Regions from separate parts of the Homo sapiens genome. Here region 1 is linked to region 2. The links come from fine-mapping of genetic effects on gene expression. A gene starts in region 2. The other region holds a variant in brackets. All regions are shown on one strand. Distances are between the middles of the regions.

Region 1 (8,331 bases), 26 kb before region 2:
CTTTACAATAATTCTGTGAAGAAAGAATTCTTACCCTCTTTTTTTCCCATTTATTTATTTATATTATTTTTTGAGACGGAGTCTCGCTCTGTCACCCAGGCTGGAGTGCAATGGTGCAATCTTAGCTCACTGCAAACTCCACCTCTCAGGTTCCAATTCTCCTGCCTCAGCCTCCAGAGTAGCTGGAATTACAGGCACGCCACCATGCCCAGCTATTTTTTTGTATTTTTAGTAGATACGGGGTTTTGTCATGTTGGCCAGACTGGTCTTGAACTCCTGACCTCAGGTGATCCATTTGCCTTGGCCTCCCAAAGTGCCGGGATTACACGCATGAGCCACATCTGGCTTTTTTTCATTTATTGATAAATGAAATTTTGCATATTATGGGGTGCATATGAATGTGTTTTATATACACAGAATGTGTAATTATCAAGCCAGGGTATTTGAGGTATTCACCACCTTGAGAATTTATAATTTTATGTGTTGGGAACATTTCAAGTTCTCTCTTCTAGCAACTTTGAAATACACAATATATTGTTGCTAACTGTAGCCACCCTAGTCTGCTACCAAACATTAGAAGGTATTTCTTCCCTAAGTTTGTACCCATTCACCAACCTATCAAGAAGTTTTACTATTTTACAGGTGAGGAAACTCAGGTTCAGAGAGGCTAGGTCATTTGTCCAAGGTCATTGCTGTTACACAGCAGAGGCAGGATTTAAACCCTGGCTTGCTCAACTCCGGAGTTGGTGGGTTTTTTTTTCTTTAGAAATAGCGTCTCTGTCTGTAAGGCTGTGAGGGTGTAGTGCAGTGGCACAATCACAGTTCACTGCAGCCTAGAATTCCTTCGCTTAGGCGATGCTCCCGACCCAGCCTCCTGAGTAGCTGGGAGTACAGGTGCATGACACACCTGGCTAATTAAAAAAAAGTTTTTTAGAGATAGGGTCTCTGTATGTTGCCCAGGCTGATCTCAAACTCCTGTCCTCAAGTAATCCTCCTGCCTTTGCCTCCCAAAGTGCTGGGATCACAGGTATGAGCCACCACATCCAACCCAGAGTTTGTGCTCTTAACCAGGGATGACATGTTGCAACTTCACTCCTCACAGTGTGGCCCACAGACGAGCATCATCAGCATCACCCGGGAGCTTGTTAAACTGCAGCATCAGGCCACATCCAGGGCCTGAGTCAGAATCTGTATTTTGACAAGATCCCAAGTGATTCGTGTGCATACTAGTTTGAGAAGCTTTGGGGACCACAGTTTCACTAATGGTTTTTTTTTTTTAATTTCTTTTGAGACGGAGTTTCATTCTTGTTGCCCAGGGTAGAGTGCAATGGCGCAGTCTTGGCTCACTGCAACCTCCACCTCCCGGGTTGTAGAGATTCTCCTGCCTCAGCCTCCTAAGTAGCTGGGATTACAGGCGACCGCCACCACGCCCAGCTAATTTTTTTTTTTTTTTTTGTATTTTTAGTAGAGACGGGGTTTCACCATGTTGGCCAGGCTGGTCTCGAACTCCTGACCTTAGGTGATCCACCCACCTCGGCCTCCCAAAATGCTGGAATTACAGGTGTGAGCCACTGTGCCTGGCTTTGTTGGTTTTAACAGTTCTTTCCCATGCAGGCTGCAGCTGAACAGCCAAGTCCCCTCCTTGGGTCACATATTTTTCTGAAAATGTTATAAAAAAATTGAGTCCACTGGCCTGGGCTAATTACCTAGCAGAACATCCCCATGGTTTGGTGATTCTGAATATCGCTGCCAAACAAGCACTTGTAGAGGCTCAAACAAGGCCATAAAACATGGCAATGGGGGCGCGCTCCCACTCTGGGAAATGAAAATCTGACGATACTTTGAATTACAGTGGATCAAGATTAATTCCAGGCTCTACTTAGAGGAAGCTTTCAGGCCCAGTGGTTTAGACATAAAAGCAGTTTGCCCTAATGCGGCAGGTGAAAGCTGTGACAACTCTATTGCTTGGTGCCAATTACATTTATGGACTTGTACCCAGGAGTGCTAGGAAATTGTCACCATTAGTGCTGACGTACTGCCAGTTGTTGGCTCTGTCTAGTGGGGTTCTGATTTGAAGACTCATTATTAATATTCCCTGTAGTGATCTGCAATGCTGCTCCATTATGGCAAGTCTGTCAGGAACGGAGTTTGTGTAGGAATTTTAGAAAACAGCAATAGGTTGAGGGCTATGTGGTAGGCCCCAGAGCTTCTCAAACTACTGTGCACACAAATCACCCAGGGTCTCGTTGAGATGCAGATTCGGAATCACGTCCTGAGCTGAGGCTTGATACTTTTCTTCTTTTTTGGAGACAGGATCTCTCTCTGTTGCCCAGGCCAGAGTGCAATGGTGCAGTCATGGCTCACTGCAGCCTCAAATTCTTAGGCTCAAGCAATCCTCTCACCTTGCCTTCTGAGTAGTTGGGACTACAGGCGTTAGCCACTACGCCTGGCTTTTTTTTTTTTTTGAGATGGAGTTTTGCTCTTGTTGCCCAGGCTAGAGTGCAATGGCATGGTCTTGGCTCACTGCAACCTCTGCCTCCTGGGTTCAAGTGATTCTCCTGCCTCAGCCTCCCAAGTAGCTGGGATTACAGGCATGAGCCACCACACCCGGCTAATTTTGTATTTTTAGTAGAGGCAGGGTTTCACCATGTTGGCCAGGCTGGTCTTGAACTCCTGACTTTGGGTGATCCACCCGCCTCGGCCTCCCAAAGTGCTGGGATGACAGGCATGAGCCACCATGCCCGGCACCTCGCCTGGCTTTTTAATTTTTGAGATGTCTGGCTCTGTTGCCCAGGCTGGAGGGCAGTGTTGCGATCTTGGCTCACTGCAACCTTCGCCTCCCAGGTTCAAGCGATTCTCCTGCCTCGGCCTCCCAAGTAGCTGGGACTGCAGGCGCAAACCACCATGCCAGACTAATTGGCTGTTTAATTTTTAATAGAGATGGGGTCTTGCTTTGTTGTCCAGGCTGGTTGAACTCCTGGCCTTAATTGATCCTCCTGCCTTGGCCTCCCAAAGTATCGGGATTGCAGGAGTGAGCCAACATGCTCAGCCTGATGTTGCATTTCTAACCAGCATCCACGTGATGCCACAGATGCTGCTGCTGCTCCAGCGGGAATGTGGGAAAAGCACAGGCTCAGGAGTCAGATGGACATGGGTGGACATGGGCTCTAAACCTGACTCTGCCCTTGGTTGCTGTGTGATGTTGGGCAAGTTGCTGAACCTCTCTGAATTTTGGATTTCTCATGTGCAAAATAGGGATCACTTCTGCCTTTTAGGTTCTTTGAAGATTTATAATAACGTACATGCATAGGTTTTCTTCTTGCTCCCAGAGGGGCAGGGTGAGGTCACTCTCCTGCATGCTCTCACTACAGGTTCAGCTGAGACCGTTTTTCTTCTCTAAAGTACTTGGCTTTCTTCTTCCAAGTCAGGATTTCTCCGCCTCGGCGCTACTCACATTTTGGGCTGGATCATTTTGTGTTGTGGGGGATGCTCCGTGATTACCGCATTATAGAACGTTCAGCAGCATCTCTGGCCTCACCCACTGGATACTGGTGGCACCCGTCTCCCCTACTTGTGACCACCGAAAATGTCTCCAGGCACTGCCAAATGTTCCTGGAGGCAAAATCACTCACAAATAGGAAATAATGACCTAATTAGTAACTTACATTAGCAATTCATTCAACAATATGTGTTGAGCATCTACTGTTTGCCAGACCATACAGCAGGGATGTAGTGATATTTAAGACAAACAAGGTCCCTGACCTCATGGAGACTTTTTCCTTTTTGGACCTCAGTCTTCTCCGCTGTAATGTGGGTATCACAAGGCTGCGGACCTCCTAAATTTGTTGGGAAGATGAAGTTAGACTTGCAAGTGCCTGGCCCCTGGCATGAGGGATTAGCCAATGCCAGGGGTATGATGGGCCTAGGGATGGAACCTGGGAGCTTGGGGAGAAGCGAGTGTGGGCAGGGACAGTGCATGGAGAAGCCAGGAAACCTGAGCTGCAAGGGAGGCGGAAAGGGGCCATGAAAGGCCCTGGTGCAAAGTGTGCGGCAGCAGCAAGGCAGGGGAAAGGGGCTGCAGGGAGGGCCAAGGGTAGCAGGAAGATGGGACCAAAACTGGAGAGAAGGAGAGAGACAGTGGGACATAGAGGATGACAGGAAGGGGTGGAGATGGGAGGAGAGAGGCACAGATGGAGAAGATAAAAAACCAGACAGACAGACATGTACACACGTGATAAGACAGAGAGACCAAGGGGCGGAGGGAAAATGAGTCCAGGCGGAAGGGAACACCTCTGAGGAAGATCACTGCACAAACCCTGGTCAGCTGCACATGACCCCAAAGAGTGGCTCTTAGGTTTATTCCAAACGTACCTGATTTGGGTGATAAAGAGTTAAAATTAAATACAAAGGCCAATGCCAGTCCATTCCTGGCGCCAGCTCCTGCCTCTTCCTTCTCATGGGGCCCTCACCAGAGTGATGGGGTGGAGCATACCCAACCCTGGGAGGAAATGAGGCTTTTGTGCCGAGCGGCAATATGATGGCAATACTGGCAGTGGTAGTCAACCCATCTGTAAACAGCTGACAGAGGGCAGTACAAGAATCCACCTCACAGCCAGGGCCGCAACCGCAAGTAAAGCACACAGCTGAAATGACTGACGTGGGTGGAACTGAGCTGAGAAGGAACGTGGCTCGGCTTGACCCTGGAGCACACATCACAACCATGAGAAACAGGCAACTAAAGTGACCTCCAGCCCACAGCAACAACCTTCTCTGGCTACAACTGGGAGGCAGGGACAGACCCCAGAAAACCATCTTGGGTCATCTAAGGTACGTGTAACCATATTTTTAAAATGACAAAATCTCAAGCATGTTGCTTTGGTGAGCTTCTGATTTTACTAGAAATACACTCTAAGAACAGTCGAGACGCCGCGCCTTGTGGAGGC[G/A]ATGGGTCATGTTACTGGTTCTGCGATGATCTTCCAGAGCTCCTGCAGCAAACAGAGAAAAGAACAGGTTTCTGAAGTGCACATACAAGAGCATCACAATTTCATTAAGGAAAGTGATTCACCAAGGAGAGTAGTTAGACAACACGTCAGCCACGGAGCAGGCGAGCTGGGGCAGGAGCGGACGGGCGGCTTCCTCCTTTCTTTGTTGCTCTGGGCTGTTCTATTTTACTGTGGCAGAGAGGCTGGATGGATGAAGTCCCAGCATTAACGGAAGGTGCATCAGAGGATGTCAAACAATCAGAAGAGACCAGAATAGCAGTGAGTTGCCGTATCTCTCCATTTTGGGGGAGATCTTTATAAACAATTTTATTTTAGAGACAGGATCTCATTCTGTTGCCCAGTCTGGAGTGCAGTGGCACCATCACAGCTTGCTGCAGCCTTGAACTTCTGGGCTCAAGCAATCCTCCCACCTCAGCTTCCAGAGTAGCTGGGACCACAGGTGTGCACCACCATGCATGGCTAATTTTTTTTCTTGATTTTTGTCGAGATAGGGTCTGTGATGCCCAGGCTGGTCTCGAACTCCTAGCTTCAAGCAACCCTCCGACCATGGCCTCCCAGAGTGCTGGGATTACAGGTGGGAGCCACCGTACCTGGCCTTTTTGGGACGTCTTAGGCATCATGTATTGGGGCTGCTGACTTGTAAGAAATGTGTGTTCTTGGTCATGTGACGCTACTCTTAATGCTGCCCAGAAGTGGCAGAGCAATAAATACAAGATCCTCCTCGCACACAAAACCACACGAATTCCATGCTGCCCTCCCTCAGGACGCGAGACAGAGTGCAAGGGCGGCAGCTCCTCGTGACTCCCTCTTCCTCCCTTTTTCCTTAGAACTAGGCCCGGGTCTCCACAGACATAGAGAAAGGGAGGCCACAGCCAAAAGGCAAACAGAACAAAAGAAGTTAATTCTCAATCTTTGGACTCCAGTTAATAGAAAAGCCAGTTCAGTCCGAGAGGGGCTGGTATCCTTCCACAGTGAAGATGTGAGCAGCGGCCACCACAGCGGGGCGCCTGCACCAAGATCTGCAACCCACAAACTTCCCTCCACTGACTTCCTGTTCCCCAAACAACCTCTGCCTCGGTCTTGCCTCCTCTGGAGTCTGAACTGTCCAACGGGGGGAATATGTGCTATAAAGTAAAAGACAAGGTTCGCCTGTAGGCCCGTCTCCAGACATGGTGGCTGCTAAGAACAGGATGTAGCTCCCCCAACAGGTTCCACTACAGATGGTGCCAGGCACGCAGGCTTCACCCCCTGCAGGACTAGGGTGGAGCCTGTGCTTGGAGGGCTTGCTTCATCACCTCTTTGCCCTGGAGTCACCCGCTTCACAGTAAAGCAACCAACGGCCCTGCTTCGGGGCCTGGACCTACCAGTTGCTGGAGGCGCTCGTAAACCAGGAGCTGTGGGAAGGAGGCCTCCACGGGCTCCACCACGAAGCGCAGCTTGCCATCTGCGAGCTGCTCCAGCGCGTGCAGGCAGGAGCGGAAGTGATCGTAGGCTTCACATGTGACGTCCAAGTGTCTCAATGTGAAGTTGAGCCTGCAAACCAGCCAGTCGGACGCACAAACTGCCATCATCAATGGGAAGGGTTTTGCTGTTTCTGCCCACCTTGCTTTCCTATCCCTCACTGATCTCATATCCCCTGGACGGGCTTTTACTGAGCGCCTGTCTCATGCTGAGTGTGTGAGTGCAATTCCTTCCTACATCTGCACGACAGCCCAGGAGGTGGAAGTGGATAGCACTTTACAGATGTGGAAACAGGCTCAGAAAGCTCAGGTCACGTGCCCACAATGACACTGCTGGAAAGATCAAGACAGTCCTGCAGATCAACACTTGAGGACGCCCTCCAGGTCCTGCCTGCACCCAGCACAGAATCTGGTGCCTGGAGCTGCGCATAACTATCTGAGAAATGAATGAATGAGAGGCAGTGGCAGGGGGCGGTGCAGAGGACTCCGGGAGCACAGAGAACAGAGAGAAAACTGCTGGGAAGCTGGGGTCTGAGAGATTTCAGAGAGTGAGCACCTTCAGAAACAGGTCTCCCAACCCTGCCACTTGCCTTTCAAAACCTTAGTCTACAAGATGGTTTCACTTGAAATTAAAGCTCTTTGCCTTTTTCCCTTTTCTTTCCAAATTTTTTTATCAAGAAAAATTCCAGACATGCAACAGGAGTAAGAACAGTCTATGCTGGGCGTGGTGGCTCCCACCTGTAATCTCAGTACTGTGGGAGGCCGAGGAGGGCAGATCACCTGAGGTCAGGAGTTTGAGACCAGCCTGGACGACATGGTGAAACCCCGTTTCTACTAAAAATACAAAAATTAGCCAGGTGTGGTGACGCATGCCTGTAATCCCAGCTACTTGGGAGGCTGAGACAGGAGAATGGTGTGAACCCGGGAGGTGGCGCTTGTGCTGAGCCGAGATCGCACCATCACACTCCAGCCTGGGCTGACAGGGCAAGACTCTGCCTCAAAAAAACAAAAAAAACAAAACTGTCTAATGAACCCATTACCAGCTTCAGCCACTGTCCACTTCCAGCCACTCTGCCACCTTGGCTCTTCCCGGGGCCCCCTGCCCTCACTGAGTTATTAAAAAGCAAATGCCAGACACCAACCCATTTCCTCTGTGAAGCTGGAAATGTCAGTGTGTGTCTCAAGAAGATGAAGACCTCTTCAACTAAAGTTTAACAATCACCCTTTAACATCAAATATTCAGTATTCAACTTTTCCCAACTGTCCTGATGTTTTTCCTTTACAGTTTATGAAATCAGGATCCAAATGAGGTCTGTACATTGCTATTGCTCAGTGTGTGCCTCAAAGCAAGCCCTCGGTATTATTGGTATAAGTAACACTGCAATAAATATGCAAGTACATACAGCTTTGTACACAACCCTGAGTGTGAATTTCCAGATGCTGAATTGCTGGGTGAAGAAGTCTGTTTCGTTTTACAGCTTTTGCTGTGGATTCCGAACGATCTTCAGAAAAGCTGTGGACTACTGTTAAGTATTACAGGAGAATGTGTGTAGCTATCACAAGGTGGGCACTCAATAAATGGAACCTAACATTTCAGGATATTCTAGTGGAAATGTCTGGGTGAGGCTGTTGGGTGAGGAGCTGTCCGATTCAGCAAGAGAAAGAGACCTGGGGGAGCTGAAGAGACAGACGGCACCACAGAGAGAACATTCAGGAAGAGAAGCTCTCAACAGTGTGTGCTGGCCAAGCGTTGAGGTTCCAGTACAGTCTGCATTCAAGTCCTTGTCTATCACTAACTAGCCGTGCCCTGGCCAAGGCCCCTGATGCTTCCCAGCCTTCCTCTCTTCATCAGTCAAGTGGGACAGCAG
Region 2 (8,331 bases):
TTTTTTCCCCCAGAAACCAGTATCCAATCACAATCTGCACTTTGCATTTAGTTGTTATGGCCCTTTACTCTTTCTTTTTTATTCTAGAAGCTGTTATCAACTGTCCCCACATCATTTGTTGTTATAAAGCTTTCCTATTTTAAACAATGTTTTATTTTTAAACATTTCTTTTTACAGACAGGGGCTTGCTCTGTTGCCCAGGCTGGAGTGCAGTGGTACAATCATGGCTCACTGCAGCCTCAAACTTCACGCGATCCTCCTGCCTCAACCTCCTTCATAGTTAGGACTACAGCTATGCCACCATACTTGGCATTAAATTTTTTTTTTTTGTAGAGACAAGGGTCTCACTATGTTTCCCAGGCTGGTCTCAAATTCTTGGGCTCAAGCCATCCTCCCATATCAGCTTCCTAAAGTGCTGGGATTACAGGCGTGAGCCATCATGCCTGGCTTAAAGCTCTGCTACTGAATTTAAAAAGATGAGTGGAATTAGGCGGGTGTCGTGGCGCGCGCTGGTAGTCCCAGCTACTTGGGAGGCTGAGGTGGGAGGATCGCTTGACACCAAAAGGCAGGGGTTGCAGTGAGCTGAGAATGCGTCACTGCACTCTGCACTCCAGGCTGGGTGGCAGAGCAAGACCCTGTCTCAAAAAGAAATTAAAAAAAAAAAAAAAAGAGTGAGTGGATTTAAAGGAAAAGTAGTAAGGGAGTCACTACACTGGTGATACACAGATATGGCAAAATTATGCAGGTGACACATTAATAACTAAAACTTGGAAAACCATGGCTGAGGCAAAGTGGTCAAGAACAGGTGGGACCTCCCTCCAACCGTTTCACCTAATCAAAAAGCATCATCAAACAGCAGTAGTCTGATGGGCTTTGAAGCTGGACAGACCAGGTGGGGATCCCTGGTTTCTCACCTTCTAGCCATGTGATTTCAGGAAAATCACTTCGCCTCTCTGCATCTGTTTCTTCAGCCACAATCTCACGCAGTGTTACTGGGTGGGTAAACTGCTGAGCAGAGTCCTTGGCTCACAGTAGGTGTTAATAAAACACCAGCAACCTCCTTGTCCTGGGGTTGGTTTCAGGTATTTGACCCAAACCTGCCTGTAACCCCTGACTGCCTATAGGAGCTGTTCCTACCTGGGTAGATGTCATGAAATCTTCAGGGCCCCCACTTCTTCAACTGCAAAATGAGGTCATCATGACTCAGGCTGTCCTAATGATCCCAGTACACTGCTGGAGTTCCTACATTTAAGTGGTTGCTGTGGGGCAGCAAAAGCTGTCCCAACAAAAAAATTTTTAAGAAAAAGATGATTCCTTATTCATCTCCATGCTAGCTTTCCTACTCAACACCATAAAGCCATCAAAATGCAAGTGGGTTGTAAAGAAAGTCTGTGAATCTGGCAAATCAATGCAGAATTTCATGGTGTCATTGAAAGTGATGGAGAAATGCTGGACCTGAAGGCCAACACTCAATCAATCGGACTGGCAAAACCACACCAGATTCCAGAAGAGAAAATACAGCTTATACCTACCACTCATTTCAAAGGCAGATCAAGCTCTCTCAGGACTTAGAGATGTCCTGGGGGAAAACTGAGGACTTTCACATACAGTTTTTTTTGAAGGGGGTGGGGAAGATCCTCTCTAATATTGCTGTAAAAATCAAAAGTGAACCAAAGGATGCCATTTCTTTTTTTGCCATAGCGCATTTTTTTTTTTTTTTCTGAGACAGAGTCTCACTCTGTTGCCCAGGCTAGAGTGCAGTGGTGCCATCTCGGCTCACTACAACCTCCGCCTCCTGGGCTCAAGTGATCCTACCTCAGAGTCCCGAGTAACTGGGACTACAGGCATGCACCACAATGTCCACCTAATTTTTGTATTTTTAGTAAAGATGGGGTTTTGCCATGTTGGCCAGGCTAGTCTTGAACTCCTGACCAAGGTAGATCCATCTACCTTGGCCTCCCAAAGTGCTGGGATTATAGGTGTGAGCCACCAGGCATGGCCTATAGCGCAATTTTGTTGGAAAACTTACATCCCAGAAAAATCAATGTTCTTTGCTTTTTCCAAAAGTGAGCATAATATTACACACCAAATTTTAAGTATAGACACACACAAAAAAACTCAAATTCTTAATCTCTAGTTGAATTTTCCATTTTTAAATTCAACCCAACCAGGCTTCCCAAGAAATGTACGCTGCAATGTAAGTTCCAGATGAAGGAGATTCCCTTTAAGTGGCTTTCCCTAGAATCAGCTATCTGGGAATAAGGAGGCCCTCTTGAACCTATCTCAGGCCCTCATATACTCAGAGGAGTATATGAGACAATTACCACTTTTCGGGCTTACGACATATAGTAAACGTTCAATAAGCAACAATAGTAAATACTATCATTATAGTAATATAATAATGATTAAAGTGAATGCTGGGAAGAAAGAAAAAAGGTAACAGTTTCTCTAGTCAGGAAAAGTCTCTTTCCGGAAATGCAGGGTCTGTATGGGCTTCGGGCTCCTCTCTTTACTGGGCAGAGCTGAGAAAGGAGACCCAGGTTGCAGATGGGGACCTGCCCCACCACCTCTCCATAGGGCTGCAGGCTCATCCCTGCAGCAGGAGCTAACGTGTTCTTGGCTCTTCTAAGGCTGTGGGGGCTAGACTGAGACGCTACCAGCTTTCTTCTCCTATAGGTCCCCAGTCAGTTGTCCCAAATAAGCAGTGTGCTGGGATCACGGTGTTGAAATAACTTCCCTCCTCATCTTTCTTTCTGATAACTGCAACTCACTCAACAATCAATAATTTGGCGCGATCCCATGACGATTTAGGCCAGGAGCTGGGGAGGGCAGGGTGTGAAGGCCCAGGCTGGGGGCAGGAAAGACGTGGCCTGGCCACGGTGCGTAGAGTGGTAGTGAGGGGCTCCGGGGACGTCCCCCGTGGGGCTACTCGTTCTCTTTGTCTTGTCGCCTTCCTGACGCCACCCTTGTGGGTTAACTATTGCCCTCTCAAAAAACAGTCACAGGTCGGGCACTGCCCTCCCTTCCTAATCTAGAACCGAAGGAGAGGTGCCTGGACCCAGGATGGAAACCCAGGTGAGGACGTGGACTTCTTTCCCCAACACCCGTGTTGAGAAGGGGAAACTGACGCTAAGAGTGGGGTCGGGCCTTAGGGATCTGGGCCTCCGATCTGTGGGAGCTCGGATTTCAAAGTCAGGCTCGGCGCCAGGAGGTTCCCTGCACCCTACCCTATCCCGCCGCCTCTCCCAGGCACTTACCCGCCGCGGGGCCCAGCCTGGGATCCCACCCGACTCCCGTCTCTGTGGGACTTAGGCGGCCGCCATAACAGGCGGTCTGCGCAGGCGCGGCCCCGCCCCCGCGTGCGACCATCCGACTGCCCCGCACCGTGGCTCCACCTACCTGCCCGGGCCGCGCATGCGTCCGAGGGTTGCCGGCGGGCACCTGTAGCCTTCGCTCTGGTCGCGGGCGAGGCGTGTTTGCTGGGGGGACCCGCCTAGGTGGCTAAACTCATTCCTCTAAAAGACTTAAATAGGAGTTAAATAACTCTCCCAGCTACTAAGTGGTAAAGCCTGGATTCGAACCCGGGGTGTGGGATCAGAGCCGGTGCTATTTAACCAGCATGCTACTGTATTTATTATCACGGGTGTTACCGTCATCCATGCTCTTAGTACTCGTTTGTTTGTTTGTTTGTTTATTTGAGATGGTCTTGCTCTGTCACCCAGGCTGGAGTGCAGCGGCGCAATTTTAGCTCACTGCAGCCTTGAACTCCTGGGCTTAAGGAATCCTGTTTCAGCCTCTCTAGTAGCTGGGACTACAGTTGCGTGGCACCATTTTTTTTTTTTTTTGTACAGACTGTATCTTGTTGTGTTGCCCAGGCTGGTCTCAAACTCCTGGCTTCAAGCAGTCCTCCTGCTTCGGCCTCCTAAAGCTCATAAATTACAGGCATGAGCCACCACGCCCAGCCAGTACTTGTTATTATTAATAGGTGGTAGTGATTTCATTAGGTGGTAGTGATTTCGTTAATTCGTATGCTCATCAAGTTTCCAACACCAAGGGGGTGAGACAGAGTGGCAAACATAAGACTCCATGTTTGCTCGTTTTTTCTTGCCTGCAGAATTTCAGAAAGCCTCTGAGTCCGTGACTGAGCACAGCCCTCAGAAGAATCCCCTGAAGAGGATGAGCAGGATAGACCACAGATTCTCACGTCTCTTGCCTGAGTCACTGCATTTTTAGAAAAAGTACAGTCAATAATATTGGCCCTTTTCTCAATCTATATATTCAGTGACATCATGGAAGTCAGCCTGGCCACAATGGAGTAAGCCAGGGGATGGGCCGCAGGAAACGAGGATACATAGGTAGCCAGGGTTAGAACTTTTGTGACATTCTAAGAACTTTGGATTTTACTGTGCGTGAGATGGGGAGCTGCCAGGGATATACACCACACTGACGTGTTCACAGACATGCCCAGACACACACAGTGGTGCTCACTCTCAGACATGTCAGTGAACATACAAATATACACACAGGAACATATGTAAAGTCCACATATGTAAAATCTATATCCCTGTGTGTTCACATATACACACACGCACACACATGGCCTCAGCTGGCAACCTTTGTCTAAATTACTTTTTTTTCTCTTTTCAAAATAGAATTAAATCAACATCAATTTCATGGTTACTGATGATAAAACGTGGAGAGTTGATAGGGTGACTAAGCGACACAAATAAGAATTTTTTTTTTTTTTTTTTTTAAGAAACAGATTATGTTTCCTGAAATCCCCCAGGACAGTACACAGAGAGCCAGTTGGGTGTCTTGGGACCAGATTCTATTCATAGTTTTCTCTCTAGTTCGCTGAGGGTTCTCTTAGTTATCCCCAGAGGATGTTGAGTGGTGGGGAGGGCACTAGGAAGGCATTGTTCACACCCTTGGGAGTTTTGTCTTCAAATTTAAACCGGGGGAATGACCCTTAAAAATCAAAAGATCACATTCCTCCTCTTGTCAAACCTATAATCTTTTATAGGGGATTAGTGCCCCTACAAAAGAGGCCCCAAAGAGCTGCCTCACTTCTTCTGTCATGTGAGGACACGGCAAAAAGACAGCCATCTATGACCAAGAATTGGACACAGAATCTGCCAGTGCCTTGATTTTGGACTTTCCAGCCCCTAGAACCATGAGAAATGAATGTGTTTATCAGCCACCCCATGTATGGTATTCTGTTATAGCAGCCCAGATGGCCCCAAAAGGGTTATCATTTCTGCCACAAATTTTGAGGTGGTTTGCAACACAGTAATAGGTCACCAGGTAAGGGGAAAGAAAGCCAGCCCTTCTTGGCAGGGCTGCAAAGAGATGGTAGCTGGGGGAGTGCGGGAGGGGGCCCTCAGTTCCGGAGCCTCAGTTATAAACAAGGCACACTGCTGGCCCCTTCATCTTGTGGTTTTGTTTCATTCTCACACCCATTCCGAAGCTCAGAGAGGTGAAGTGCCTTGCTCAGTGTTACCTAGCCAGTGAGACGCAGACTCACGTTTTCTTTTCTTTTCTTTTTTCTTTTTGACAGAGTCTCCATTTGTCGACCAGGCTGGAGTGCAGTGACGCCATCTCAGCTCACTGCAACCTCTGCCTCCCTGGATCAAGCAATTCTCCTGCCTCAGTCTCCTGAGTAGCTGGGATTACAGGCGTGTGCCACCACATCCAGCTAATTTTTGTATTTTTAGTAGAGACGGGGTTTCACCATGTTGGCCAGGCTGGTCTCAAACTCCTGACCTCACGTGATCTGCCCGCCTTGGCCTCCCAAAGTGCTGGGATTACAGGCATGAGCCACCACACTTGGCCTCAGACTCACATTTTCAAAATGTCCCAGTGAGTCTGCTGGGTGGAGCCTTAGGGTTAAATGCCCTCCCTAGTGTCCCAGGCAGGTCTTTTGCTTTGAGAGTCTCCCCCAGACTTGGCGAAGCAAGGGTTAAGGTGCATGCTCACACACGCTGGAGTGTCCATCACTCCCACCACCTGGACTAATGACAAACCATGTCTGCAGCAGAGGGAAGGCGGATGAACTGCCAGATGTGTATTAAGAAACCAGCTTGCAGGAAATTGCTGTCGGGTGATTATTATTAGCTGGGTTATTCAGAACAGCCCTTTCTCCAAAGGTCGTGCATTTACCAAATGCTTGATGTGTTTTCCCAGTCAGCCCCAGAAAATTTTGTCCTCCTGGAGAGAGAGCTTGTCCTCCAGGACTGCTGAAAGTGGGTGATGATAATTCTGCCCCCGCCTCCCATCAGCATATCACGGCAGCTGCTTTGAATGCACAGCAGTCTGCGCTCTGGTTCCTGGTTCTGTGTGCAGAGGCAGGAGGTTGACCTTCAAGAGCACAGAGCTGAGTTCAAATCCCCAGCTCGGCCACTGATTAATTATATTCATCCATTCACTACCTAATTTTGAAGAGCTTTTCATATCCTTGGTACTTGGGCAATTGCTTTACTTCTATGAAACTTAATTTCCTAGTGGCTCAAATACTGATAATACCTTTCTTGGCGTGTTGTGAGAATGAGTGGCATATCACCCGTGGAGAGTTCCAGACAATAACTCCCTTCCATTTCTTGAGATAATCTGACAGTGTCTGTTATATTTTAAAGAACCCACCAGTTTTACTCACTTCACCACGTCACATTGGTAGATGAAAAACAAAAAACAAAATAAGTTACAGTGCCATTCATACTGTATAAGATCAATTATGTAAAATAAAAAAACCCTCACAATTATATGTTTTCTCAAGCTAGGCAGAATGTGGTGTATGCATCAAGGGATTATTATTCAGCTGTAAAAAGGAATAAAGCAAAATAAACAAAAAAGCTTTAAAAAATCAGCTGGGGATGTTCGTGCATGACTATGTTCCCAGTTACTTGGGAAGCAGAGGAGGGAGGATTACTTGAGCCCAGGAGGTTGAGGCCACAGTGAGTGGTGTTTGCGTCACTGTACTCCAGCCTGGGCAACAGAGAGAGACCCTGTATTAAAAAAAAAGAAAAGAAATAGGGTCATTGTAGATGCAAGTAGTTAAGGATCTTGAAATCATCCTGGATTTAGGGCAGGCCCTAAGTCCAATGACAGCTGTCCTTATCACAAGAGGAGAGGACTCAGAAAGAAGACAATGTGGAGTCAGGCGGAGAATGGGGTGAGGCATGTAAGAGCCAAGGATCGCCCAGGATTGCCGGCAGCCTCCATGCGTCAGGACAGACACGCGGAACGGATTCTCCCTCAGAGCCTCCAGAAGGACCCAGCCATGCTGCTACTTTGATTTTGGACTCGTGGCCTCCAGAACTGTGCGGGAATGCAGGTCTGTTGGTTAAAGTCACCCAGTTTTATTTAGTTAAGAGACTAATACAAGGTTTTAGCTAATTTGTGCCTACTGGTCTTTTTATTTGCATTCCCCTTGGCTCAGAAAGCCCACTCTCAGCCCAGTTTCCATCGTCACAACTGGTTCCTTCTCGTCCAACATAGCTTAAATTATTTTTATTTTTTATTTTATTTTATTTTTATTTTTTGAGACAGAGTCTCACTGTCACCCAGGCTGGAGTGCAGTGACGCGATCTTTACTCACTGCAAACTCTGCCTCCTGGATTCAAGCAATTCTCCTGCCTCAGCCTCCCGAGTAGCTGGGATTACAGGCGCCAGCAACCACGCCTGGCTAATTTTTGTATTTTTAGTAGAAACGGGGTTTTGCCATGTTGGCCACGGTGGTCTCCGACTCCTGACCTCAGGTGATCCACCTACCTTGGCCTCCCAGAGTGCTGGGATTACAGGCATGAGCCACTGTGCCCGACCCATAGCTTAAATATTATCTGCTCAGTTGGCCCTTCCCTGCCCATCCCATCATGTGTTGACCCCTACTATCTGCCCAAGTAGCTCTCCTTTACACACCCTTTAATCTTCTTTCTTATTTCATTTTTTAAAAGTAGAAATGGGGTCTCGCTGTGTTATCCAAGCTGGTCTTGAACTCCTGGGCTCAATCAATCCTCCCACCTTGGCCTCCCAAATTTCTGGGATGACAGGCATGAGCCACTGCACCTGGCAACTTATATTTTCTTTTTAGATCTGTCACTCTCTGGAATGACCTATTTGTTATTTATTTATTTATTTTGAGACAGGGTCTCTCTCTGTCACCCAGTCTGAAGTGCAGTGGTGCAATCTCGGCTCACTGCAACCTCTGCCTCCTGGTTTCAAGCGATTCTCCTGCCTCAGCCTCCTGAGTAGCTGGGATTACAGGTGCGTGCCACCATGCCCTGCTATTTTTGTATTTTTAGTAGAGACGGGGTTTCACCCCATTAGCCAGGATGG

The links.
Region 1: its variant is fine-mapped to the expression of METTL22 in whole blood (TOPMed, PIP 0.99).

The regions. Positions count from the first base shown.
Region 1 is chr16:8,642,762-8,651,092 of GRCh38, reverse strand. It overlaps METTL22 (methyltransferase 22, Kin17 lysine), which reads right to left. Exons shown (of 11, transcript NM_024109.4): 10 at 6,368-6,536; 11 at 1,439-4,985. The coding sequence ends at 4,950. Among named protein-coding and RNA genes, the nearest start is that of METTL22, 25 kb to the right of the region's middle. The variant G/A (reference allele first, on the strand shown) is at 4,944.
Region 2 is chr16:8,616,702-8,625,032 of GRCh38, reverse strand. It overlaps METTL22 (methyltransferase 22, Kin17 lysine), which reads right to left and starts at 3,335. Exons shown (of 11, transcript NM_024109.4): 1 at 3,258-3,335.